Regions from separate parts of the Homo sapiens genome. Here all the other regions are linked to region 1. The links come from fine-mapping of genetic effects on gene expression. A gene starts in region 1. Each other region holds a variant in brackets. All regions are shown on one strand. Distances are from middle to middle. Region 1 holds the start of HPCAL1 (hippocalcin like 1). Region 2 overlaps HPCAL1 (hippocalcin like 1). Region 3 overlaps HPCAL1 (hippocalcin like 1).

The links.
Region 2: its variant is fine-mapped to the expression of HPCAL1 in neutrophils (CEDAR, PIP 0.93).
Region 3: its variant is fine-mapped to the expression of HPCAL1 in whole blood (INTERVAL, PIP above 0.99).

Annotation. Positions count from the first base shown.
Region 1 is chr2:10,297,916-10,306,093 of GRCh38, reverse strand. HPCAL1 (hippocalcin like 1) reads right to left here and starts at 3,190. Exons shown (of 5, transcript NM_002149.4): 1 at 2,917-3,190. LOC101929691 (a long non-coding RNA gene) reads left to right here and starts at 3,377. Exons shown (of 4, transcript XR_922791.3): 1 at 3,377-4,516; 2 at 5,081-5,252. RefSeq lists silencers at 2,296-2,475, 2,794-2,991, 2,876-3,655, enhancers at 2,556-2,615, 7,877-8,171 and a cis regulatory region at 7,670-8,178.
Region 2 is chr2:10,397,947-10,406,124 of GRCh38, reverse strand. All of the region lies in intron 2 of HPCAL1 (hippocalcin like 1), which reads right to left. Among named protein-coding and RNA genes, the nearest start is that of SNORA80B, 45 kb to the left of the region's middle. The variant C/T (reference allele first, on the strand shown) is at 3,247.
Region 3 is chr2:10,330,034-10,338,211 of GRCh38, reverse strand. The region is part of intron 1 of HPCAL1 (hippocalcin like 1); the gene reads right to left. Among named protein-coding and RNA genes, the nearest start is that of HPCAL1, 31 kb to the right of the region's middle. RefSeq lists enhancers at 6,012-6,599, 6,429-6,628, 7,159-7,258 and a silencer at 6,999-7,048. The variant T/C (reference allele first, on the strand shown) is at 4,544.

The DNA.
Region 1 (8,178 bases):
CACTGGTTCATGAGTGAGTGTGGTACTCTACCACTTATGAGTAGCAAAAAGGGTCTTAGAATAAGTGTCACAGGGAGACAACTGCTCTGACGCACACTCAGCAGGGCATGCACTGTACCCGCGCTGCAGACCTTGGAACTGTGCTTGCAGAGCCCTGAAGGTAGGGGGTGTGAGCACCAGCGCTTCAACAGGAGGAAACAGCTCCAGGGTGAAATGGTGCTAGGTGAGTATGGGGCGCCTGGCTGGGGCGTTTGCACCAAGCGAAGTCCAGTCCTTGTCCTTCCATAGACTGCACTTCTAATTCTGCACAGCCCTGTGGCCAGAAAGGGGACGGAGTGTGTCCACGTTCTTGTATTTCACTTAGAATCTATCTCTAGGAGGGCTTGTTGGAAATAAATGGGTCATTGGCTGGAGTTTGGGCAAATCTCTGTTCTTCTGGGGTTTTGACTTGTTCTGGTTTCTCCACAGATCAAAGGACCTTCCATTTATTGGATTCCAAAGACAAAGTCTCCCAAATTGTTATCACACATTGACATTTCTGTTCCACCTTAAAAACAGCATGAAAGTGGGACGCAGAGGGAGCAGGCAAGGCTAGAATGTGCCACCGTGGCACCACATCCCACCGCAAGGGAGAGGCAGGGCCCCCGGGCCTTCCCTTTGCCACATTATCCAATAAAACCTCAAGAGCTCAGTAATTACAGGCACTTTCAAAAGTGAAACAGAAATAGATCTAAGGCCAAAACACTGGCTTGCTTGAGACAAAGGGCTGGCTTTAACTAGAAAAAAACAAAAACAAAACAAAACACAAACCTGGGTTTGGGTCTGTCTTCTGAGCTGAGAAAGCCAGACTGATTTTTTTTTTAATATTATTATGGAACCTGATTATGAGGAAAGAGTAGGATTCACACCAAAAGCCCTTTTTTCTTGTAGGACATAAAATCATTTGATGAAACAGAAAACAGGGTGCATTCTAAGTGTGCCCCTGTCACTAAGTCAGGATGAAAAATGAGAAAATGAGTTCATCGCATCCCCCTGGCCTGCCATGGCTAGGATTGCAGGGCTTCAGTCTCGGCCGAGGGAAACCAAAGGAACCGGACCAGGTTTCTATCCCTGGCTCCTAAAAGCCCGCAAAGCAGCCCGCCTCTCTGGGAACACCATCACGTAGCCCCTGACAGTTGGGAAGCGCATCCATACCAAAAGGCCGCCCATGCTGTCCCCTCCGCAGCCCAACCCCATGCCGGCGCTCCATTTTGAGAGCCTCCTGCACTGGTGAGATCTTGGCTCCCTTGGTTAAAGGCGATTTTTTTCCCCCAGAGAAAGACACCAAGGCGATGAAGGGAAAGAATATCCTTCGCTCTGGCCGAGAGCCACCCGACCCCTAGAGCTGGCCTTGCTGCGTCCGAGCCAGCGCCGAGGCGCCAGAACTCTCCAGAGAGTGAGTCGTGGTAAGAGCTGGGTGCTCGTTCACTGCGGTTCAATTTTACGACTAGTAGGTTTCAAAAGTAAATGTTTTAAATTAAGGTGTGGGACTAGGAGGAGGTGTCCCATGTGGCACCCCCGGCATGAGGCTGGCTGCAAGGGAGCAGGGATGGCAGGGGCTGGGGCTGGGGGTTGTCTAATGCCGAGGCCAGCAGCTGGACTCGGCGTCCCTGGCAAACATCCTCCTCTGGTGGAATTGGGGTCAGCCAGGAGGAAAGGGGTGGCCTTTGGCGGCCGGGACACCCCGGGAGCCCGAGATCTGCATGTGCGGGAAGCGCCAATTTTACGCCGTGACTCTCGGACTCCACGAGCTGAGCTGCATCCTCCCGGACTAGGAACTTGTTGAACCAAAGGGTTCTCAACTCCGCAGTCGCTGCCTCCCGGCCAGGAGAGGGACCCCCACGCTTGCGCGGGAGCCTGGGGGCTGGGGCAGGGCCGGCGCCCAGCGCGGCGCTCTCGGGCACTCGCGGAGGCGGCGCCGCCCGGGAGGTGCTGCAGGAGGCAGCGCAGCTGGCAGCTAAACTTTCTCGAATCTCAGTGCTTCGCGGTTAAGTTAGGGCCAGGGAGAGGCACAAAACACGCCCGGGGAAAATGTAAGGCCCCACCCACGATAAAGGGGAAAAAAAAAGGATTTTAAACAGGAGACGCTAATCCAATTAACACAGTACCTACTGTGTGCGGGGCTTTGGACCAAGAGCTGTCTTCAGTGCGTTCTCATTTCACCTGTCACCACAGCCCCCAAGGGAGGAGCTGTCCTCATTTTAAAGAGAAGCAAACCGCGACCGGGGAAGGTGGCGCGTCTGGCCCAGGTCGCAGTGCGGGTCGCGGGGAGGCCAGGGCTCTCCTCGTCGCCCCATGGCCCTGGGAGGAACGAGCGGATCGCCTCCGCGTGGGCCCCCACCCTTGGCAGAAGCTCACAGGCGACCCACGTGGGCCGCACGGACCTGTTCCCTGAGGGCTGCCCAGCCTGCCCGCGAGGCCCGCCCTTGCCCGTCGGGTCCCAGCTGTCCTCGAGGCTCCTAAGCTACGCACTGCGCCGACCAGCAGGGACAGGGGGCTCTGGGCGTGGGGCTGGACCACCCACACCCACCCCGCCACCCCGCTCTGCGCACAGCTGCTCACACACGACACCCGCCAGGCACCGCTCCCCACCAGCAACTGCGCCCCGACACACAATTCCACAAACGCAGTCCAAAATGTGCACACCTAAGGCACACATGGATGCCCACGAGTACACGCCATTCGAAAGACACACCACCGTCCGCAGTCACCCACAACTCCACCGCGCAGAGAAACGCGGGCACTCCCGGACACACACACGCGCGCACAACACACACGCAAAGAGCCGGATCGCAGCGCTCGCCGGTGCACACGCCGGGTGCACACGCCCGGGGCACACTTCAGCAGCCAGCAGACCGCAGCCCGCCCCTTCCCTACCTGCTCCGGCGCAGGACGCGGTCCGCCGGCTTCCCGAGCCCAAGTTCGGCGCCGGCGGCGGCTGCAGCGGGCCCGGGCCGCTGCCCGGGACAAGCGCGCCGAGGCCGGGAGGAGTGACTAGCAGCGCGGGCCTCCGTGCGCCCGCAGCTGCTGCGCCGGCCCTGCGCTCATCGCCGCCCAGAAAGACAAAAGGAAGCCGGCAGCCAGGGAGGGAGCAAGGTGGAGGCGCCCGTCAGTCCGCCCGTCCGCTGCCCGCCGCCGCCGCGGCCCGCCTGCCAGCTCCGGGAAGGAAGGGACGCGAAGGCGGGACCTGGAGGCGGGACCCGGAGGCGGGGGCCGGGGCGGGGCGCGCGGCCAGAGGCGGGCGCTCAAGTTTCCTACGGCCCCGCCCCCTCCGGGCCCCGCCCCCTCCACGCCCCCTGCCGGACCCTCAGCGCCCGGCTCGGCCCTCGCAGCCCCTGCACCTCGCTGCTCCTCGGCCCTCGCGGCCCAAACCTGGCCCTGCCGGGTCCCAGCCCCCAGTGGCTTTCGGGACAGGGGCGGAGCCGGGCACCGGTTCTGTTCCCCTAACCCTTGGCCTCTGGCCTGCTGGTATAGAAGAGGCCGAGAGGCGGCGCCCGGGAGGGGCCAGCCCTGCGCCCGCGCCCCCCGCCCCCACGCCGCAGGAAGTGGCCCGGGCGGCCTAGGAAGGGGAAGAGCCGAGTTGCCCCAGCCCCGCACCCCCAGCCCCAGCCCCGCGTGCAGCTCGCACCCCTTCCCACGCCTGTTCGGGGGAGAGCCCCGGGCCTGGAGTGGGAAGCCTGGCTCCAGCTCTGGTTACCTGCAGTGACTCCCCAGGCCGTTTAGGCGAGTCCATTGGGCCGCCTCTGCCTCGGTTTCCCCACCTAACCACGGAAGGTGCTCCTCCCTTCCAGGCATCTGTGGTCTTCGAGCTCCACGCGGGAGAGGCGCCGGTCTGGCACCTCCTGCCCAGGGTCGGCGCCTCCTGGCTCTCGGGGAGGGGGGCATCCTCCATCCCCTGCACCTGCCTCGAGAGGAACCAGGGACAGAGCACCCCCACCCCCACCAGGAGCTCCGGAAAAACGGCTTCAGAAGAGCAAATATACACACACACCCACCTCCCGCCCCAAACATCCCCGAAGAAAGGTAACCACAGAAACAGCCAGAAATGTGGAGCTGGGCGATCGTATGAGGCTGAGACAAAACTGTCTTTCTAGCGTCTCTAGGGGAGAGCTTGAATCCCTCCTTCCACTCCTCCTCCACGGAAAACAGAGTGAACTCCTGCTACAGAGGCCGCCAGAGCAACATGCAAGACCAGCTTTGAGGGGAGCGGGCACAGGGCCTTGCAGGGAAGGTGGGCCGAGCCCAGACCCCTCATTCTTACTTGGCTCTGAAGGCGGAAAGGCAAAGCTAGACCTCGAGGAAGTTCCCCTCCCTGTGGGCCCTACAGTGAAGATTACATGAAGGCATGTGGGCGGTGGACCAGAGTGCACCGACTGATGAAGGCGGCCCGGTACCCGCGGGTGCCATGCCTCCTTCTTAGCCAAGGCCACTCTAGCTCCCCGTGAAGTATCCAGGTAGAAGGCTGGTGGGGTTACAGGTGAGAAGCCGTCGGTGGGGTCCAGGAGCCAGGCCTGGGGAAGCACACGTCACTTCCACCCACATCCATGGGCCAGAAGTAGTCGCACAGTCCCACCAGGATGCAAGGGGCTCTGGCAGCTGTGGTCTTCATGAGTGTTTCGGAAGTAAACAAAGCCGGTTTGATGAACACGTAGAAACATCCCTGCCACAGAAACTGAGCAGATTTCTCCCAAGCACACACAGGGCAAAGGGGCAAAGTCTGTCCACAGACTCACAGGAAGGGAGGTGCATGGCAGACACAGGCAGGAGGTGGGGTTGGGGTGGAAAAGTTCAGGGAGGGCTCAAAAGCAGACCAAGGCCTGTTTCTGAAACCCAGCCCACTCACTGGTTCCTCCACACTTGGCCCATGCTGTTCCTCTCCCATGTGACTTTTCCATCTTCCCCCTCCAACCTGTCACCCATCCATCCTTCAAAACTTAGGTCAGTTAGCTCTCACCTAGCCCTCAGCAGCTTAGCCCGCAGATGCTTCCTCTGTTTCTGAACTTCTAGAGAAACACACTTAACCGCAGACCTCTTATTCCAGGAGTGTATCTCTCTCAGATGAGATACAAGTTGGTCCCTTCCCTTGCGTCCCTCCTGTTCCTTCAAGAGGAGGACTGTCTACCCACCCCGAAGCTTCATGGAGAGAGAGCACACCGTCGTTATTCAATATGTAGTTTTGAATTTAACTAGAGCAAAGAAGAAAGCAAATTCAGGTAAGATGTTGTATAATTTCCTGGGGCTAATGTAACAAGCACCTCCAACTGGGCAACTTAAACAACAGAAATGTGTTGTTTTGTAGCTCTGGAGGCTGGAAGTCCAAGATCAAAGTGTTGGCAGGGCTGGCCCCTTTGGAGAGATGTGGGGGGCAGTTTGTTTCATGTCTGTCTCTTAGCTTCTGGTAACCTCATGCATTCCTTGGCTTATGGATGGCCATGTGCGCTCCCTGTGAATTCACATCTTCTCTATATACCTGTCTCTTTTCCCTTTTCATAAGGACACAGTCATTATTGGATTAGGGCACACCCTAATGACCTCATCTTAACTTGATCATCTGTGCAGACCCAATTTCCAAATAAGGTCACATTCACAGGTACCAAGGGTTAGAAGTTCAGCATCTTTTGAGGGAAACAATTCAACCCATAACAGGTGTCATGCTAGATAAACAATTTGTTTTTCATATGATGACTGTAAACAAGACAGAAGTAATTCTGATTGTTCTTAATATCTGACTTAGTTTTATGACAATTTTTTTCTAACTTTTATTATAATATACACATAACATAAAATTTATCATCTTAATCCTTTTAAAGTGAACAGCTCAGTGGTATTAAATACATTAATGATGTGCAACCAGCACCACCATCCATCTCCAGAACTCTTTTCATCTTGTAAAACTGAAACTCTATACCCATTAAATAATGACTACCTCTCTAATACCTTACATAAGTGGAATCATACAGTATTTCCTTTTTGCAACTGGATTATTTCACTTAGCATAATGTCCTCAAGATTCATCTATGATGTAGTGTATGTCCAAATTTCCTTCCTTTTTAAGGCTGAGTAATATTTCCATGTGTGTGTATACCACATTGTGTTTACCCACTCGTTTGTCAAGAAATCATTGGGTTGCATCCACATTTTAGCAATTATGAATAATGCTGCGACGAACATGGGTGCACAAATATCTTTTCAAGATCTTATTTTCAGTTGTTTTGGGTATATACCCAGAAGTGGAATTGCTGGATTATGTGGTCATTCTATTTTTAATTTTTTGAAGAAGCATCATAATAATACTTTCCACAGTGTACCATTCTACATTCTGCCAAACAGTGCACAGGGTTCCAATTTCTTCACATCCTCACCGCCAGCACTTTGTTGTTGTTGTTGTTGTTGTTGTTGTTGTTGTTGTTGTTGTTGTTTTTGAGACGGAGTCTTGCTCTGTCACCCAGGCTGGAGTGCAGTGGTGTGATCTCGGCTCACTGCAAGCTCTGCCTCGTGGGTTCACGCCATTCTCCTGCCTCAGCCTCCCGAGTAGGTGGAACTACAGGCGTGCGCCACCAGGTCTGGCTAATTTTTGTATTTTTAGTAGAGACGGGGTTTCACCATGTTGGCCAGGCTGGCCTCCAACTCCTGACCTCAAGTGATCTTCCCACCGCAGCCTCCCAAAGTGCTGGGATTACAGGCGTGAGACACCGCACCAGCCCGATTTTGCTTTTTGATGCACCAAATTTTTATGAAATCCAATTTGTCTATTTTTCTGTGTTGTCTGTGTCTTTAATGTCATATCCAAGAAATCACTGCCAAATCCAACATTGTGGAGATTTTGCTCCAAGTTTTCTTCTAAAAATTCTATAGTTTTAGGTTACTTTTAGGTCTTTGATCTATTTTGAGTTAATTTTTGTATATGGTGTTAGGTAAGGGTCCAGCTTCATTCTTTTGCATGTAGATATCCAGTTTTCCCAGCACCATTTGTTGAAAAAGCTGTCCTTTTGCCATTAAGTGATCATGGCACCCTTGCCAAAAATCATTTGACCATATATTCAAGGGTTTGTTTCTGGGCTCTCTATTCTATTCTATTGATCTATATGTCAAGCTTTATTCCAGTGCCACACTGTTTTGATTACTGTAGCTTTGTGGTAAGTTTTGAAATCAGGAAGTGTGAGTCCTCCAGCCTTGTTCTTTTTCAAGATTGTTTTGGCTGTTCAGGGCCCCTTGAGATTCCATATGAATTTTAGGATGGGTTTTTCTATTTCTGCAAAAAATGTCATTGGGATTTGGACTTTATTGTTTCTGAAGTACCTTTACATACACTATCTCCGACATTCTAAAGATTGTTTCCATATTTTACAGATGAGGAAAGCTATACTTGGAAAAATGAAATGTCCAAGGCCACATATTAGAATCAGCAACAGCCAGGTTTAACAGCCAGATTCAGTGTCATTGTGCTGGGCCCACACAGGCTCTGGAAGAAATACTATTCTTTTTTTAATTCCTTGTAGCACTTTAATACTTGAGTGTATATCCACCAGGGAGAATCTTGCAAATAACATTGTTCCAGCGCACAAACTCCTGCCCCAGAATGTTTGAGGAAGTAGAGGCTAGCTTGTTTCTAGGTACTCTTTTGATTCTATTCCCCAGTTTCATTTGTAATTACAGAGTGGAGAAATGCAGCTGCTGGGAATAGCATGGGTGACGCTGACTTAGGGTAGAGGCAGCATCTCTGGCCACCCAACCTTCCCCTGACCCCAGGAGCTCACAGGCGGAGGAAATGCCCTGATAACTCCCCAGCAGCAGCTGCAGCAGGAAACCAAAGCCGTGCCTGGAAAGGGGAGAGTTGGAAATTTACCATGACCAGTCAGCCAGCAGAATCACTGGATCCTGCCTCAAATCTGTAGATGGACCAGAGCTGGGAAAATTGGATCATTAGGTCAGCTTGTTTATCCCTGAGGCACGCTGTTTTGTAACCACTCCTGATACAGATGCTGTGGCCCATGGCTCATCCAGGAAGTGTGACTCAGAGGCAGGTTCCGATGCCACCCCCCCACCCCCGCTCTTTCCCCTTCATCCTTGCAAGCTCAAGATAAACTAAAATATCCCCTCCCCTGCTGTGGACCACCACCACCCCAATTCCTTTGTTGA
Region 2 (8,178 bases), 100 kb before region 1:
AAAGGAATTAGCGCGGAGCATGACTGTAGGAGAACGCATGTTGATGACAGCAAGGAGGGGTGAAGGGGAGAAACAGTAGAGGCTCAGTGTGCCCACCTCCCCACTACCCGGTAATGCTCCATAGAACACCAAGAATAATTCTATTACTATTCAATCACACAACAAAAACTCAAAAGCTGAAACAACCATGTGAATCACCCAACGTCCCATTTGCGGGGACTTGGCGCATACTGCAAGCTGACTGCTCTTTGGGAGAAAATGTAAGAGGGCACAGCAGGCTGGAGATACTGAGGCTTTAGACGCCCCTTCATCAGTCCCTCTAGATGTGGCCCCTCGTGCAGTCAGCCAGAGCTGGCAGGGCGCTGCTCCTGCCCGAGGCCCCCACCCTGGCTTGGCTGTGCTGATGACGCCTGGTGATTTGGCATGCCAGCTCCCAGGCATCTTGGAGCGCATTCTTCCTGGCTCTTTGTGCCAGCTGCAGAATGACTCAAGCACTGACCCATGCCTGGGGGGAAGATCTACGCGTCAGATGGCAGAATTCCGTCTGCAAATTCCACCCTGATGTTCCAGGCCAAGAGGTGAGCAACAGCCCTTCCCCAGGGAACCGTGTTTCACCCTAGCGGGAGCAAAACTGAGACTACGGGGCCAACTCTGCTGTCGAGTGCCTCAGCCTGCCCTGCCAGCACCCAGCACGCCCTGGAGGGGCCATGGAGGGACAGGCAGCTCTTCCAGGGTCTTGGAGCCATGCCCTGGAGTCAGGCAAGGCTGGGCTAGAGTTGCCAGTGTCAACGCTCCAGACCCAGCCTGTTTGCTCCTCTGTAAAATTGAACCAGAATGCCAGCTTCAGGGGCCTGCAGTCAGGATGAGGGTGTGTATATGAGGGGTGCTGCTGGGAGCAGCCCGCAGACCCAGGGGCCCTGCTGGGGGCTCTGCCCAGCCTGCCCCGTCTCCAGCCATATGGTCCTGGCTGTCTCAACTTCTCTGGGCCTTATTTTCCTTGACTGTAAAATGGGAATAAGGGTCCCTGCCTGCAGGTTCTACTGAGCAGTTGTGAGGATAAAGGGAAATGGAATCTGTAAAAGGAGTGCCAGCTGGAAAGCACCAGTCAGATGCCTGGGGTATTGGCACAGCTTTACAAGAAAGGCGGCCATCTTGGGAGCCGATTCCTGACACTGAGCACAGCCCGGCGGGAGGTGGGGGCTGCGGCCTGGGCTCGGTGGAATCTCTGCACTGCCTGGCGAGCCCTTCTCGCTCGGCACACCCAAGCAGCGGCATTAAAACCTGGTCCTGAGGCCCAGCTGGGCAGAGAGCCTGGGACCACGGTGGCCTAGACACATCCAGCTGGGGCAGGGTGAGTGAAATTCCAACTCCTGTTCTTCAAAGAGAAAATAAAGAAAAAGGACAGAAGAAGCCCAGTCATGCCACAGCAGGGCAGAGCCCACTCGGTCCAAGATGCAAGAACTGCCCGACCCTGGGGCAGCAAAGGAGCCCGGGATCTGGGGGCTGCTCAGCGCCTGCAGGGCATGGGAGTGAGGCTGGGGCTGCCTCAGGGCATGAGGTCCCTCCTCTCATCTCCGTCTCTGGGGAGTCTGTGGCTGCTGACTGCTTTGGGTCTGTTTAAAAGGAAACGCAGCATCCTGCTGACCAGCACAGGCCAGGCTTTCTGCAGGATTTTGCAGACAATGTAGGAGATGGTCCCAGACTTACCCAGAGCGCTGGGGCTGATACCTGAGCTCAGCGGGGCTGGGGAAACACTCACCCAGCAAAGACGGGGTGAGGGGCATTCCAGGAGGAATCCTCAGTGTGCTGGGAGGCAAAAGGGCATGGCTGGAGAAGGGCTGGCGGGGACACAGCTGGGGAGGAGGCCAGAGTCTGGCTAAGGTGGGAGCTCCTTCCAGTCCCAGACTTCATCCTGGGGTGTTTTCAAAGTGTGTAGGTGTCAATGACTCGCAGGCCCAAACTTTTGGGGAGACCACCACCAGCAAGTAACTTGTCCCTGCTACAAACCTCTGGGCTGGTGACCTCTGCATGTACCTTCATGGGTAATGAATGGACAAATGATAGAGAACATTATGGAGCAGTGTATAGAGCAATAAAGAACAAACAGAATATGGAACAAATGGGTACATTAACAAATGCAGGGTATGGGGAGGAGAGGCAGCCAGAAGAAGGAAGAGAAAAATACCATCGAAACTTAGGAATTCAGACCAATTACTTGAATGGTAGTTCAAATTTGTAAAGTCCGAGTCAAAAAAATACCTGAAAAATTGCCTCTGAATTCTTGATCAGGTAAGGACTGGAAAGAGTGGGCGTTTGTAATGAACGGATAAGAACTCTTTGTTGGCCGGACTCGGTGGCTCACACCTGTAATCCCAGCACTTTGGGAGGGTGAGGTGGGCGGATCACCTGAAGTCAGGAGTTCAAGACCAGCCTGGCCAACATGGTAAAACCCCATCACTACTAAAAATACAAAAATTAGCCAGGCATGATGGCAGGCACCTGTAATCCAGCTACTCAGGAGGCTGAGGCAGGAGACTCATTTGAACCTGGGAGGCGGAGGTTGCAGCGAGACAAGATCACACTACTGCACTCCAGCCTGGGTGACAGAGCAAGACTCCGTCACACACACACACACACACACACACACACACACACACACACACACACACAAAAGAACTCTTTGTTATGAGGGCATCATTTTCAACTGCAGAATGGAGCTGGAGGCCTGGGTGACAGTGGCTATGTCACACACCCTGACGGCTCTCACTTTCCTCATCAGGGTCCAATATGTGTTTGGACAGTGTGGCCCCTGAGGTATGAGCTAGCTCTAAAAAACATCCTTGAGAAAAACATTTAAAAATAAAGAAAAATAAATAAATAAATAGAAAACTTCTTTGAGTCTATCCCCAGAGGAGGCTTCCAAAGCACCTGAGGAGCTGCTCACTGAGCCAGGACTGGTGTCCCTCTCCCCGGGACCTTGTTCAGCAGAACCAGCTGCCTAGCTCTTGTCTTAGTAGATGGTAAAAAGCAACATTTCTGCCAGGTCCCTGCTTGAGAAATGACTAAACTTGATCAGTTCATGAGCCCCAAAGGAACTATTTCCAAATTTTGAATTTATGTGTCCCAAATGAATGGGGTTTGGCCACATTGTAATATATCTCGGGTGGAAACCATTTGTAAGAAATACCATTGTAAATGTTAGACTGAAGAGGTGTTTGTGAGACGCGCGTCCTCCCTGGGGTTTTG[C/T]GCAGGCTGCATGGCTCTGTCTGCAGGGCAAGGTCCACCCTGTGCTGTGCTGCCCACGGCTGAGCTCAAGGTGGGAGGGCTCTCAGGTGCCTGCCTGGTGTCCACACCAGCACACCCGTCAAAAACTTTTTCTTTAATTCTTTTTTAAATTTGGAAGGGAACCTCCAGTGAATCATCACATGCATTATTTGATTCATGTTTAATATCTCTGGGAAGCAATAAAAACAATAAATCATTATTAATAAAATGGCCTCAGCCCGGCTGAAACGCTAGGCACAGAATGGTGATGTTCCAGCCGCCCTCGGTGGCCCCAGCAGCTACAGTCTGGAGTTAACTGTTGGCAAGTGACTTATCCATGATCACCCAGGCCTCTGACTCATAGAGAGTGTGTTTATAATCAGGAGTGGGGCAGCTCATAAAAGCCACTCTTTGCCATCTTTAGTCTTTAAATCACAGCACCAGAGGCCACAGATTCTGCAGGGAGAGTTGTGGCAACGCACCCACCCATACACACAAAGTGTAATCAACACGCAGTCACGGAACACCCCTTACATGCAGGCCACAATGCTAAGTGCTGGGAAGACACCGAAGTGTAAAACGCCCTCAGAGCGCTTCCAGTCTGGTCGGGAAAGCAAGACAGGAACTCCTTCTTTCCTTCTCCTACCAAGGTTCAGTTCCTGGCCGGGTGCGGTGACTCATGCCTGCAATCCCAGCACTTTGGGAGGCCGAGGCGGGCAGATTACCTGAGGTCAGGAGTTCAAGACCAGCCTGGCCAAGATGGTGAAACCCCGTCTCTACTCAAAATACAAAAATTAGCCGGGCGTGGTGGTGCGCGCCTGTAATCCCAGCTACTCAGGAGGCTGAGGCAGAGAATCGCTTGAACCCAGGAGGCGGAGCTTGCAGTGAGCTGAGATCACACCACTGCACTCCAGCCTGGGAGACACAGCGAGACTGTCTCAAAAAACAAAAACAACAACAACAGCAAAAGCTTCAGTTCCTGCTCTGAGCCTGGCGCCGGGCTTGGGTGCTGGATGGCAGAGGGAGACAGCATTCCAACATGGACCAGCAGCCTCAAGCCTCCAGCTTCCCAGCTGGGCCCCAGTTCTCTCCTGACCCTTTTCCCAAGGACAGAGAGCTGGGTTCCATTTACCCAGGGTGTGGCTAGGAATAATCCCATAACCAATTATTAGCACAGCGCCTAGAACACAGGAAGCACACAGTAATTGTTTGACGAGAGGCAGGAAGGAAGTCAAGGAGGGAGAGAGAAGGTCCGGGTGATCTAGGCGCTCCTTACAGACAACTTCCAAATCCTCTGCAGATCCGGCCTTGGAATAGTGGATCTTCGGCCACCGCGGCACTGTCTGTGCACCCTCCGAGAGCCCCATCAGACACATTCTAGCCCAGATAGTCTCTAGCCTCAGCAAAAGAGCCAGTTTCCCGGAGACCCTCTGGGGGCCTAGGAACACCCAAAAGAACAGATATTTGCTAAACATCGTCTATGATCCCAGTGATTACTTCTAAGCTAAAAATTTGCACATGGGGTCTGAGAAGTCCAAGAATATTCTAGGGGGTAACTGAGAGAAAACGTGTAATCTGGGCTGTCCCAGAAATACCAGGCCCTGTGCCTGGTGTGGTGCTGGATGCCTGGGGAAGGGGAGCAAAGATCACTGTGGACTCCACCTAGAGAGGCCGGTGACATGGGTGGGGAGGAGCCTGGCTGGCTCGGACCTGGCCTGGAGACCCGGGGCCAGCAGGCAGCAAGGTCAGGGGAGTGTCCTTGTGCAGCCTCGGCTGTGGCTGCCTGTGTGGCTGAGCAGACTAAGGGGCAGGTCAGCCGCCCTTCCTTCCACCTCTGCCTGGCATCTCCCAACCAGATGGGGAGGCTAGGCCGGTCTTGCTCATGTGGGATCTGGATGCAGCCCTTCACACAGAGCCCGACATGGAGCAGATGCTCCGGAGATGCTGACGGCTAGGATTCCCCCGCCAGGCACCTGGCGGTCCTGCAGAAGGGCCAGGACAATGTCCCCAGCCCTCCACCAATTCCAGGGCAGATGAGAATGCCAAGTTGTGCCTGCCCACAATGTGTGTATGTGTGTGCGTGTGTGTATGTGTGCATGTGGGTGTGTACGTGTGTGCAGGCACGTGTCTGCCCACAATGCTTGTCAGACAGGATCTGCCCTCCGTGGCTGAGGGCTGGAGGGGACGACCACAGGAAGTGATACTGCCAAGTCATCCCAAGTCACCCTAAATATAACCCTCAATGTACAACACAGGAGGATTGTCCCTTCCCCGCTGCCCTGCCTCATGACCAGCGTCTGCCTAGGAGGGCACTTCCAGAAAGGCCGCTCAGATGGCTCTCTGAGATGCCCGCCTGGGATCCACGGCCTGGCCAGCACTAGAGGGGAGGCAAGCCTGGGGTCCTGCTCTTCCGGCCCCAAATCTCCATGGCCCTGTTCATCTAACTTCTTCCAGAAGAATTGTTGGCTACACAAATCACTATGAGCAACAATGATCTCTTAAGCCTGGGAGGAGGCATCCTTATTTAAGGGACACAGAGGGCTGCCGTATGGTGGGGGTCTGGCTGTGCCGAGATGCTGCTCGCACCTGTCTTCCTCAGCGGTCGGGGTTGCCAGCGTCCTGCCCCTCAGGTGTGACCCACTCCGACCTGGCTGAGCCGCCTGCTCGCCCCCTCCTTGCCACGGGTGCACGTCTGCCACAGGCCCTTTGCACCAGCTGCTCCTTAGCTAGAAGCACGCCCGTCCCTGACCTCCTGCAGGCCTTTGGTCAGGTCTCATCTCAGGAAGGCCTTCCCCAAGCACTCTATCCAAAACCGACACTCATTCTTTATCCCCTTTCCAGCTTGATCCTTTCTCTCATTTCTGTTTTGTTGAGTTCACTGTCTGTCTCCCCTTGAGTGGAGCTCAAGGTCCTTGGGGCCAGGTTTACTCTGGTCTGTTCTCCATCAGAAGCCCAGAGCCTGGAAGCTTGTCTGACACAGGGTACGTGCTCCATGAACCCACCTCAAGGGAAGGAACGCATGAGTGTCTGGGGACGTGGAGAGGGAGGCTGGTAGGGGAGGCTGGGACTCGAGCCTTAGTATGCAGGTGCTGCTTCTCCACTGCCCGGGGAGCGGCCTGCTGTACATGACCAAGGGCCAGGGGCAGAGAGAAGCGGAAGGCCCTTCCAGTGCCCATCACCTGACCCACAACATCCACGGCCAATGGTGTGAATGTGCTGGAAAGTGCCTTCTGATCCCAGAGTCCCTCAACTCGTGGTGGTGGTGGTGGCGGTGGCGGTGGCGGTGGTGGTGGCGGTGGCGGTAGTGGTGGCGGTGATGGTGGCGGTGGCAGTGGCGGTGGTGGCGGCGGTGGTGGTGATGGTGATGGTGGCGGTGATGGTGGTGATGATGGTGATGGTGGTGGTGGTGGTGATGGTGATGGTGGTGGTGGTGGTGATGGTGGTGGTGGTGGTGGTGGTGGTGATGGTGGTGGTGGTGGTGGTGGTGGTGATGATGGTAGTGGTGGTGATGGTGGTGGTGGTGGTGGTGGTGGTGATGGTGGTGGTGGTGGTGGTGGTGGTGATGGTGGTGGTGGTGGTGATGGTGGTGGTGGTGGTGATGGTGGTGGTGGTGGTGGTGATGGTGGTGGTGGTGGTGGTGGTGGTGGTGGTGCAGTGATATTATTTGCTGTGCGTGCACTGAAATGCCCCAGGGGTCTGGGGATGGGAATGGACACCTCGGACCACCTCCTCTACCCTCTTCTGATCTCTTCGCCTGCTCCAGCTTCTTGACACGGGTATCAGCCTCAGCACGACCTGCCGGGCCAGGCGCCTCCCCTGTGCACCCGTGCTGACAGTGGCCTCGGGCCAGGACATTTGTATGCAGGTGACATCCAGGTAACACGGACCCAGATGTTCCCCCACTCTCTAGCTCCAGTAAGGCTGGTGGATGGAGAATGAAGGAGTGGAAGTGGCCCCTTCACATGCAGTTGTGTCTATTTTCTGCTGAGAAAAATACTTTTTTCTCAGCTAACCACACGCTAACTGGCACCCTGAGGCTGAGGCCCCAGCCTGGATGTCTCCTCCCAACCCAGCAGCTACTGTGGCAAGGAGAAAGCGGAAGGAGAAATCGCCTCCCTCAGGAAGAGGAAGGCAGGAAAACCCACCCCACCCACGGGATGCAGATCTAAGGGCGGGGCAGGGGACGGGCAGAGGGTGGGGAGCTCACTTTGCCCTGGAAACACCACGTGCGTGCGTTGGTGCCCAGCGGGAAAGCAGCCACGCCCGGGGTCTGCCCTGGGCCCTGGGCTGACCGGCTGCGGGACTCACATCTACCAGGGCCACAGATGAAACCTGCCACTGGTATCTGCCCTCCACCCCTCACACAGCCCAGAACCCCATCATGAACACTGAAATTAAGACAGTGATGCTTTAACAGGTTTTGGGTCCAAATTTTAGCCTGGCTGAGTATTCAAAGGTGGTTCCTTCTGAGTGGGAAGATGAAAATTATAAAGAGCATCTCCCGTGTCTAGGGCCAAGAAAATTCCAGACTTTTGGAAAGCGACTTTGTATGAGGACTTGGAGGACTTTAATCCTTATACAGGACCCTGCCAAACTCACCAGATGCAAGTCGGTGATGAGGGCTCTCAGGGGCTGGGCATGGCCAGATGGGGCTCTGTCCCCAAATGTCCCTCCCCCAGGTGTCCCCCCGGGAGCCTATGACAGCTGACCCTTGCTACATCCATGGCCCCAACTGATGCTCACAGTATGCAGGAGCAGGTGGGGCAGGGTGGTGAGTGACAAGAGTCACCATAATAGTCATGAGACCATGAGAGGGAGGAGGGAGAGAGAGGAGGAGCTGTGGGGCAGCCAGGTCCTGCTGGTCCAGATACCACAGGGACACTTCACTCCAGGTCTGATCTCGCATTGACCCTG
Region 3 (8,178 bases), 32 kb before region 1:
CGTGCCCCTTAGGAGTCGCTTCCCATCCCTCCTCCCCACTCCCTGCAATCACGAATCTATTTTCTGTCTCTTTAGAATTGCCTATTCTGCACCGCTCATGTACACAGAATGATAGAATATGTGGTCTTCTAAATGCGCCACTTCTAAAAAAGTCACTCTCCTTCATAAACAGCCACCTCTCTGCAGTTCTGTTGACTAACAGGATTTATGGAGCTCCCCTGACTTTCTCTAAAAATAGTAAATCCCCTCCCCAAGTCCAGTGATAGTCAGTGATACCTAAATACAGACTAAGCCGGCGCAGCCATGGCCGACCCATCCTCAGAGGGCAGGCTCGGAGGTACTGCCGGGAACATTGACAGAGACCATTCCTAAGAACCAGCCTGCACCTCCTGGGGGACTGAGAAACCAGCCACTGAGGACTGTGAAAAACGGGGCACAAGAGCAGGAAGGGAAGGTGGGAAGGAAGGGGCTGGGGGAAGATCTTAGCCACAGCCTCCAAAGGCCAGAGTGGAGGAGAAAGAGCCCAGAACAGAGCAGGGCCAGGGTCTACGCCTCATCCCCAGCTGTGCAGCCCAGAGCACATTTCTCAGCCTCTCTGAGCCTCAGGCACCTTGTCAGTGGAGGAGTGGAGAAGCACCTGCAACCCCACAGGGAGGCTGTGAGAAGTAAATAAAACGTGGAAATAATTTGAAAACTACCAAGCTAGATATGCTGTTATAGTCACGGTGGGCAACCGGGGAGCCAGGGACTATTTCTACCTAATAATATTGTTCTTCTTTTTTAAATGGTCATCAGGATGAATAATTACCTATAATTCACAGCAAATGCAGTGACAGTTAAAACCTAGCTGACATAATAAATAGTAAATACTTTACAAATATGCATATTCCTAATGTAGCAATTCTACTTGTAAGAATACGTGAGGAGGCACGAAGACACGAAAGGAGGGGGAGGCAACTGCTCATCACAGCACGTGGTGAGTGGTCTTGGCTCAAAATCCTCCCTCCCTGGCCTCCCTATGGGAGGGGTCTACTTCTAACCCCGCCAACACTGGTTGGGCCCCAGGGTTTGCTTCAGCCAATGCAATGTGAGGGGAACTGACACGCACCACATAGCCATTCCCACGTCTGAGCAGAAGCTTTAAGAGGTATATTGTTCCTGCCGGGTCCAGTGGCTCACACCTGTAATCCCAGCACTTTGGGAGGCTGCGGTGGGAAGAACACTTGAGGCCAGGAGTTCAAGACCAGCCTGGGCAACATAACAAGGCCCCCATCTCTACGAAAAATATAAAAAGTAAAAATTACCCAGGTGTGGTGGTGCATACCTATAGTCTCAGCTACTTGGGAAGCTGAGGCAGGAGGACCACTTGTGCCCATGATTCCGGGGCTGCAGTGAGCTATGATAGCACCAGAGCACTGCAGCCTGGGTGCCACAGCAATATCCTGTCTCTAAAGAGGAAAAACAGAAATAGAATTATGTTGTTCCACCATCTTTTTTCCCTCTGCCATGAGACCAGCAATGTCTCAGATGGGGCTGCTCTGAAAGCCTGGCTCCCTGAGGGACAACGTCATAGAGCAGAGCCACAACCAACAGGTGATGGTCATGTCACTTGAGGGACAAAGAATTCTTCATTGCTGCAAACCACTAAGATTTGGAGGGTCATTAGTACCAGAGCATAGCCCAGCTGACCGACACACAGTCATGTTCCTACTAATGCAAAAGTGCAAACAACCTACACGTCCACCTAAATAAATAAATGACCCATCTCCACAATGGAATGTCAATAAAATGATGTATACATTGGCATAGAAGAACATTCTCAATACGCTGCTAACTGAAAAAAGCAGAGTATAAAATAGCATGAACTGACAAAGGATTAGTCTCTAGAGTGAAAAAAAGAAAATCTACAAATCACTAAGAAAAAGATAATCCACCCAAAAGGAGACTGGACAAAGGATATGAACATGCAATTAATTTACAGCAGAGGATACGCACATGCAATTAATTTACAGCAGAGGATACGCACATGCAATTAATTTACAGCAGAGGATACGAACATGCAATTAATTTACAGCAGAGGATACGAACATGCAATTAATTTACAGCAGAAGATACGCACATGCAATTAATTTACAGCAGAGGATACGCACATGCAATTAATTTACAGCAGAGGATATGAACATGCAATTAATTTACACCAGAGGATACGAACATGCAATTAATTTACAGCAGAGGATATGAACATGCAATTAATTTACAGCAGAGGATACGAACATGCAATTAATTTACAGCAGAGGAAAGCAGAAAGGACAATAATGTATCGAAAATATGTCCAACTTCACTAGAACTTAGGGAAGTACAAATTCAAATAATCATGAGATACTATTTTACACCCATCAGAGTGTTCAGATGTTAAAGTCTGACAACACAAGTGCCGGAGAGGTATGAGGAAAAGGAGCTCACTGACCCTTGTAGAGGGGAGTGAAACTGCCACAAATGCCTTGGAGATGAATTTAGTAATAAACAGTACTGTTGAGCGTGAGAATACCATAGCACCTGGCAATTCCACTGCTAAATATTCTAGACCTCTAAGGAATTCTCAGGGTGTGCTCGTATTGGTTATCTGTTACCGTGTAACAAATGACCCTCCAAAAGTCAGCAGCCGAAAACAACAAACATTATCTCACAATTTCTCTGGGCTGGGAATCTGGCTCAAGGTCTCTCATGAGGTTCCCCTTTGCTGTTTTCAGGGCAGCAGTCTCATCCGAAGGCTCAGCTGGGAGTGGGGAGCGGATGGAGATCTGCTTCCAAGCTCACTCACATGGCTGTTGGCAGGCCTTGGTCCCTTGTCACCTAGGCCTGCCTCTCCACAGGACTGCCTTGAGACATGGCATCTGGCTCCCTCCAGGGCTGGCAATCCAAGAGGGCAACAGAGAACACCCAAGCTGGCAGCTGCAGTCTTTTTATAACCTGATGTCAGAAGTGATGTCCCATTCCTCCTGCTGTGTTCTATTTGTTAGAATCAAGTCAGTTAAGTCCAGCCAACACCCGAGGGAAGGGATTACACAAGGGTGTGAAGACCAGGATGTGGGGACCAGTGGCGGCATCTTAGAGGCTTCCTTCCACAGCACTCAAGGAGGATCAATATTCATATGGCACTCTTTATACTAATGAAAAAATGGAAGTGACCTAACTGTATATGACTAGAGAAACGATGGCTTATTTAGACAATGGGGGCTGGCACAGTGGCTCACGCCTGTAATCCCAGCAATTTGGGAGGCCAAGGCAGGTGGCTCACTTGCGCTCAGGAGTTCAAGACCAGGCTGGGCAACTTGGCAAAACCCTGACTCTATAAAAAATACAAAAATTAGCCAGGCATGTACCTGTAGTCCTAGCTACTTGGGAGGCTGAGGTGGGAAGATTGCTTGAGCCTGGGAGGTGGAAGTTGCAATGAGCCGAGATCGTGCCACTGCACTCCAGCCTGGGTAACAGAGCGAGACCCTGCCTCAAAAAAAAGTCAATGGAATTGTATACAGCAGTTAACAAAAAGGAGAAAAAAGAAGACCATGAACCACATCTATGTATCAACATGGATACAGCTTAAAAATTGTTGACAAAGTAGTCAAGAACAAATTACAAAGTGATATATATATATACCATTTATGAGTATTTCTTTCTGTTTTCTTTTCTTTTTTTTTAAAGACAAGGTCTCACTCCACTCCATCATCCAGGCTGGAGTACAGTGGTGTGACCACAGCTCACTATCACCCCAAACTCCTGGGCTCAGGAGAGCCTCCCACCTCAGCCTCCTGAAGAGCTGGGACTACAGGTACATGATGCTGCACCCACCTAACTGTTGTTGGTTTTTTTGTTTGTTTAAAAAACAAAACAAAACAAAACAGGGTCTTGCTATGTTGCCCAGGCTGGTCTTGAATTCCAGGCCTCAAGCCTCCTCCTGCCTCAGCCTCCCGAAGAGCTGGGATTACAGGCGTGAGCCACCATGCCTGGGCCACCATTTATGAGTATTTCTAACACATAAAAACTAATGTTTTGTTTAAGGTTACGCACATGTGTAGCAAGAGCGTAAAACGCGCACAAATATGATCCCTACTTCCCTCCGCAGAGTGGCTATTGGTCACTGGGGAAAGAAAAGAGTAGAGAAGAGGAGAGATGGGCTTGGGCTGGCTCTGTAATGCTCTACTGGAATTTATAGTACAATCAATCAAAATAAAACAAAAATATGGTCTTATTTTTGCTAAAACATACCCACATTTCTGTTACACATATCTACAAAGCATCTGTAAAATCTGGACACAGATGACATTATTTTATTCCTTTACAGGTTGATGTTCTTGATGGCATTAGGTCTCTTCACCTATGTTTCTAGACTTTATGCACACTTCTGGAGAGGCAGAAATGAGTCTGGAGGGGTATAGCTCAGAATGCTAATAAAAGTTATATGGAGGTGGGCAGGGTAGTTATGGGGGAATTTTTTTCTCTGTTTTTCTGTGTTTTCCAGTCTTACCAAAGAGACATAGAATAT[T/C]TGGGTAAAGAAATAAAAACTTTCTTCAAAAATCAAATCAAACTCAAAGCCAAAATGGCCACAGCTGAACACCAAAGCACACCAGCTCTGAGAGCACAGAGCAATTCCAGGAAGGTTTGCCTGGGAACACAGCTGCCCACGTGGGAAGAGAAGGTGCTGGGCCACAGGAGGCTGGCTTAGGCTGGCTTGGGCTACGGTGATACATCTGCCAGCAGGATCCCGAGAGGTGCCAAGAGGCTGCAGCCCACCCATCCCTGGAGGGAATGGCCTCCTGACTTTGCTGAAAGGAGGAAGTTGTGAGGCCAGGCTGGCTCCTTGACCTCCAACAGACAGCAGGGGTCAGATGGAGAAACGTTACACCAGTTCCCCAAGACAGACACAAACATCCACAATTCACTGTGACCACCTGATTCACGCTCCTTGGTAATTTCCCGAGTCTCTCCTGTGAAAATGCATTAGTTTTATCGTAGGGAAATTAGTAAACTTTAAAAAGAGAAGAATCTTTGTCTAGCATTTACAATGCCCAAGAGGCTGATTAAAGACCCAGTGCAGAGATCGTCAGCAGGTCAGGCCCCTGGTGGCAGCGTCCAGGCGTCATGGGGCTCAGGCAGGGCCCACTGTGCCCCACACATCCAGTGAGCCCTGAAATCTCCCACAGAGCCCCAACAAAGACCCACCCTGCCCCTCCCCCCTGCACCCCTCACCCCAAGATCAAACTTCACTCAGGCTCCTCTGAGCCCTCTTTCTGCCTCCTGTCTTCAGCCTGCCTGGCCCAGTCTCAGCAAGAATCCTGCTTAGTCAGTTTAGTGAGCCTCTCACGCCCTTCACATCTGACCACCCTTGAGATCCAATCAGTCCTCATCCCCACCTTTGACATCAAAGTCCCCCCCTGCCTTTGGCAAGAATCCCCCTACCTGTGATGTCTTCTCGCAGCTACTTTCCACTCACCCAGCCCACTCCACTTCCCAGCTCTGTCCCTTCCTTGCTGTATTAGGAGTTGGGCTGATCTCTCCCCTGCTGATAAGGTCAACCCCGACTGCATTTTCCTCGAATAAAGCTGTCCTCACTGTTTTAACAAGCGTCTGACTCTTATTTTCCTCCAAGCCTGCAGCCCAGCTAGGGAGTACAGGGGCCCGCTTCACCCCTTCCCTGCACGGCTACCCCCCACCTCCCACCCTGCCTTGCCCACCCTAGGCAGAAGCTGTTCTAGATAAGGGGCAGGGGGCACCGAGGGGCTTCCTGAGAACCGCAGAGGGGCGGGCCAGGGGCTAGAGAGGAAGGAGGAGGGTTCTAGAGAAAATGGAAACCTGTGGGCAGATGGAACTTTGAAAAAAGGAGAACATCATGATGCAACTCAAATGAAGCTTAAATGGAAGGAAATGGTAAATGCTCAGATCAGATGGAGAAGGAGGGGGAAGAAGCTGACGGGATCATGGGTGGGTGGAGAGAGCAGTCAGGCTCTGGGCATGACCTCAGCCAGGTCGAGGTACTTCCCCTCTGAAGCCACTGTCCTGTGATCGTCCCCAAAAGCAGGAAGGGAGAAGCAAAGTGAGTACACCTGACAACGGGTGACAAGGAGCGCTCCCTCTGAAGCAACAAGTGACACAGGGCTCATAAATGACAATGGGTGACAAGGAGTGCTCCCTGTGAAGCAACAACAGGTGACACGGGGCTCATAAATGACAATAGGTGACAAGGAGTGCTCCCTGTGAAGCAACAACAGGTGACACGGGGCTCATAAATGACAACAGGTGATGAGGAGAGCTCCCTCTGAATCAACAGGTGACACAGGGCTGTCTCGTAAATGACAACGGGTGACAAGAAGGGCACCCTCACCACACACAGGCAGCAAGCCCAGCTGGGGCCACCACAGGATTGGCCAATGTCACCAAGCAGTTGATGGCGGCTTGTTTATGTCCCCATCCACAAAAGACTAGAAACACCATGCCAGACGGGGAGAAAGATGCATGCGGGGGAAGAGACAGATGCCTCTGACAGCCGGGCGTGCAGTGGGGGGCAGACAGCCTCACACCCATCCCTGGACCCCGGGCACAGTGCAGCTGGGCCCAAAGCACACACTGACTTCAGCGCAGCTCCACCACCAGCCAGCGCTTGGCCGTGGAAAAGCTCCTGGGAGGGTGTTCCTGCCCCGGAAAACCTCGCTGCTGCATCCGTTCCACCAGCAAGGTTTCCTGAGTGTCTCCTGGGTTCAGAAACGGTGTCCTGTGGGACAAGGGACATGAAGAAAGGAGCCAGCCCCGTGCCTGCAGAACTCCGAGCTCCCCGGGGAGACAGGAGGAAACGCAGGAGGAGGGGTGACGATGCGTAGGTGGCGAGGTGAGGAAGGAGAGGGCGCTCGGGTGACAGGAAGGGCGCCTGTGGGCTCAGGAGGCAGGAGAGGCGGACGTGCTGAGTAACAGGCAGCCAGCACCCTGTGGCTGGGCCGGGGGCACCTGGGGGCAGGCAGGAGAGTCCAGGCTGTCCCCAGAGCCCGCCCCGCCCTCTGCAGGCTCTTGGCAAGGCCCGCATGCAGTAAGAGGGTGCGGTCACTTGCAAGGCTTAGAGAAACCGCTCCTGCAGCCGGGAGAGCAGATGGGAGGCCACGAGATGGAGCGAGAGGCGGGATGAGGAAGAAGCCAAGATGGCAAGACACAGAGAACTGGAGAGGCCGGGGCTGCAAAGGAGGCACAAGCAACAGGCTTCCCGCTAAGGCTCTCCGAATGCAGGGGTGGGCTTGCTGCACCCCCAGGCTGCACCCAGAAGCTCTGACTCAACCAGCACGGTGTGGGCCTGGGAACCTGCATTCTCACAAAGATGATCGGGGTCCGCAGTCGGAGACACACTGACAGAGAGCCCCTGCCGTGGGCAGGAAGTGAGTTAACGTGGACTGAGTGTGTCCCCCACAAAACCCCTATGTGGAAGCCCCAATCCTTACTACCTCCAGATGTGACTGTATTTGGACACAGGGACTTTGAAGAGGTCATGAAGGTAAAATGAGGTCACTGCGTGGCTCCTGATCTAGGGCTGGTGTCCTCACAAGGAGACTGGGACTCAGACACACTCGGAGGGATGGCCGTGTGAGAACAGAGGGAGAAAGGGCTACACGGAGCCGAGGAGAGAGGCCTCGGGTGACACCAACCCTGCCGCCACCCTGTCTCAGACATCAGCCTCCAATACTGTAAAAAAAAAAGAATTCCTGTTGTTTAAGGCACCCAGACTATGACCCCGTTTCCAGCAGCCAGAGCTGACTAATACACCGGGAAGGTTAGACGACTCAGGGCTTGGTGGGGAGGGGCAGGGTGGCCCTTGCTCCAAAGCTGCTGCCCTTCGCCACTCTCCTATGAGGACTAAATAAGAATAAGCATTCTGGGAATTGCAAACATCCACCAAAAAGTCAGGAATTCTCCTTTTGTCCATGTCAGAAGCATCTAGACTGGGACCTTCTGAGCACGACTCACCAGCCCCCATTCCCTGTGGCGCCGACAGACAGCCCCGAACACAGCATAAAGGCCGCTCTGAAAAAGAAAGCATCTCTAGCTTGCCACATAAATTGTGCATAGTCTCTAAAAGGAAAAAAAAAAAAAATCAAAGGACCAAGATTTAAATAACAGGAAGTGTTTTGAGGGTTGAAGACC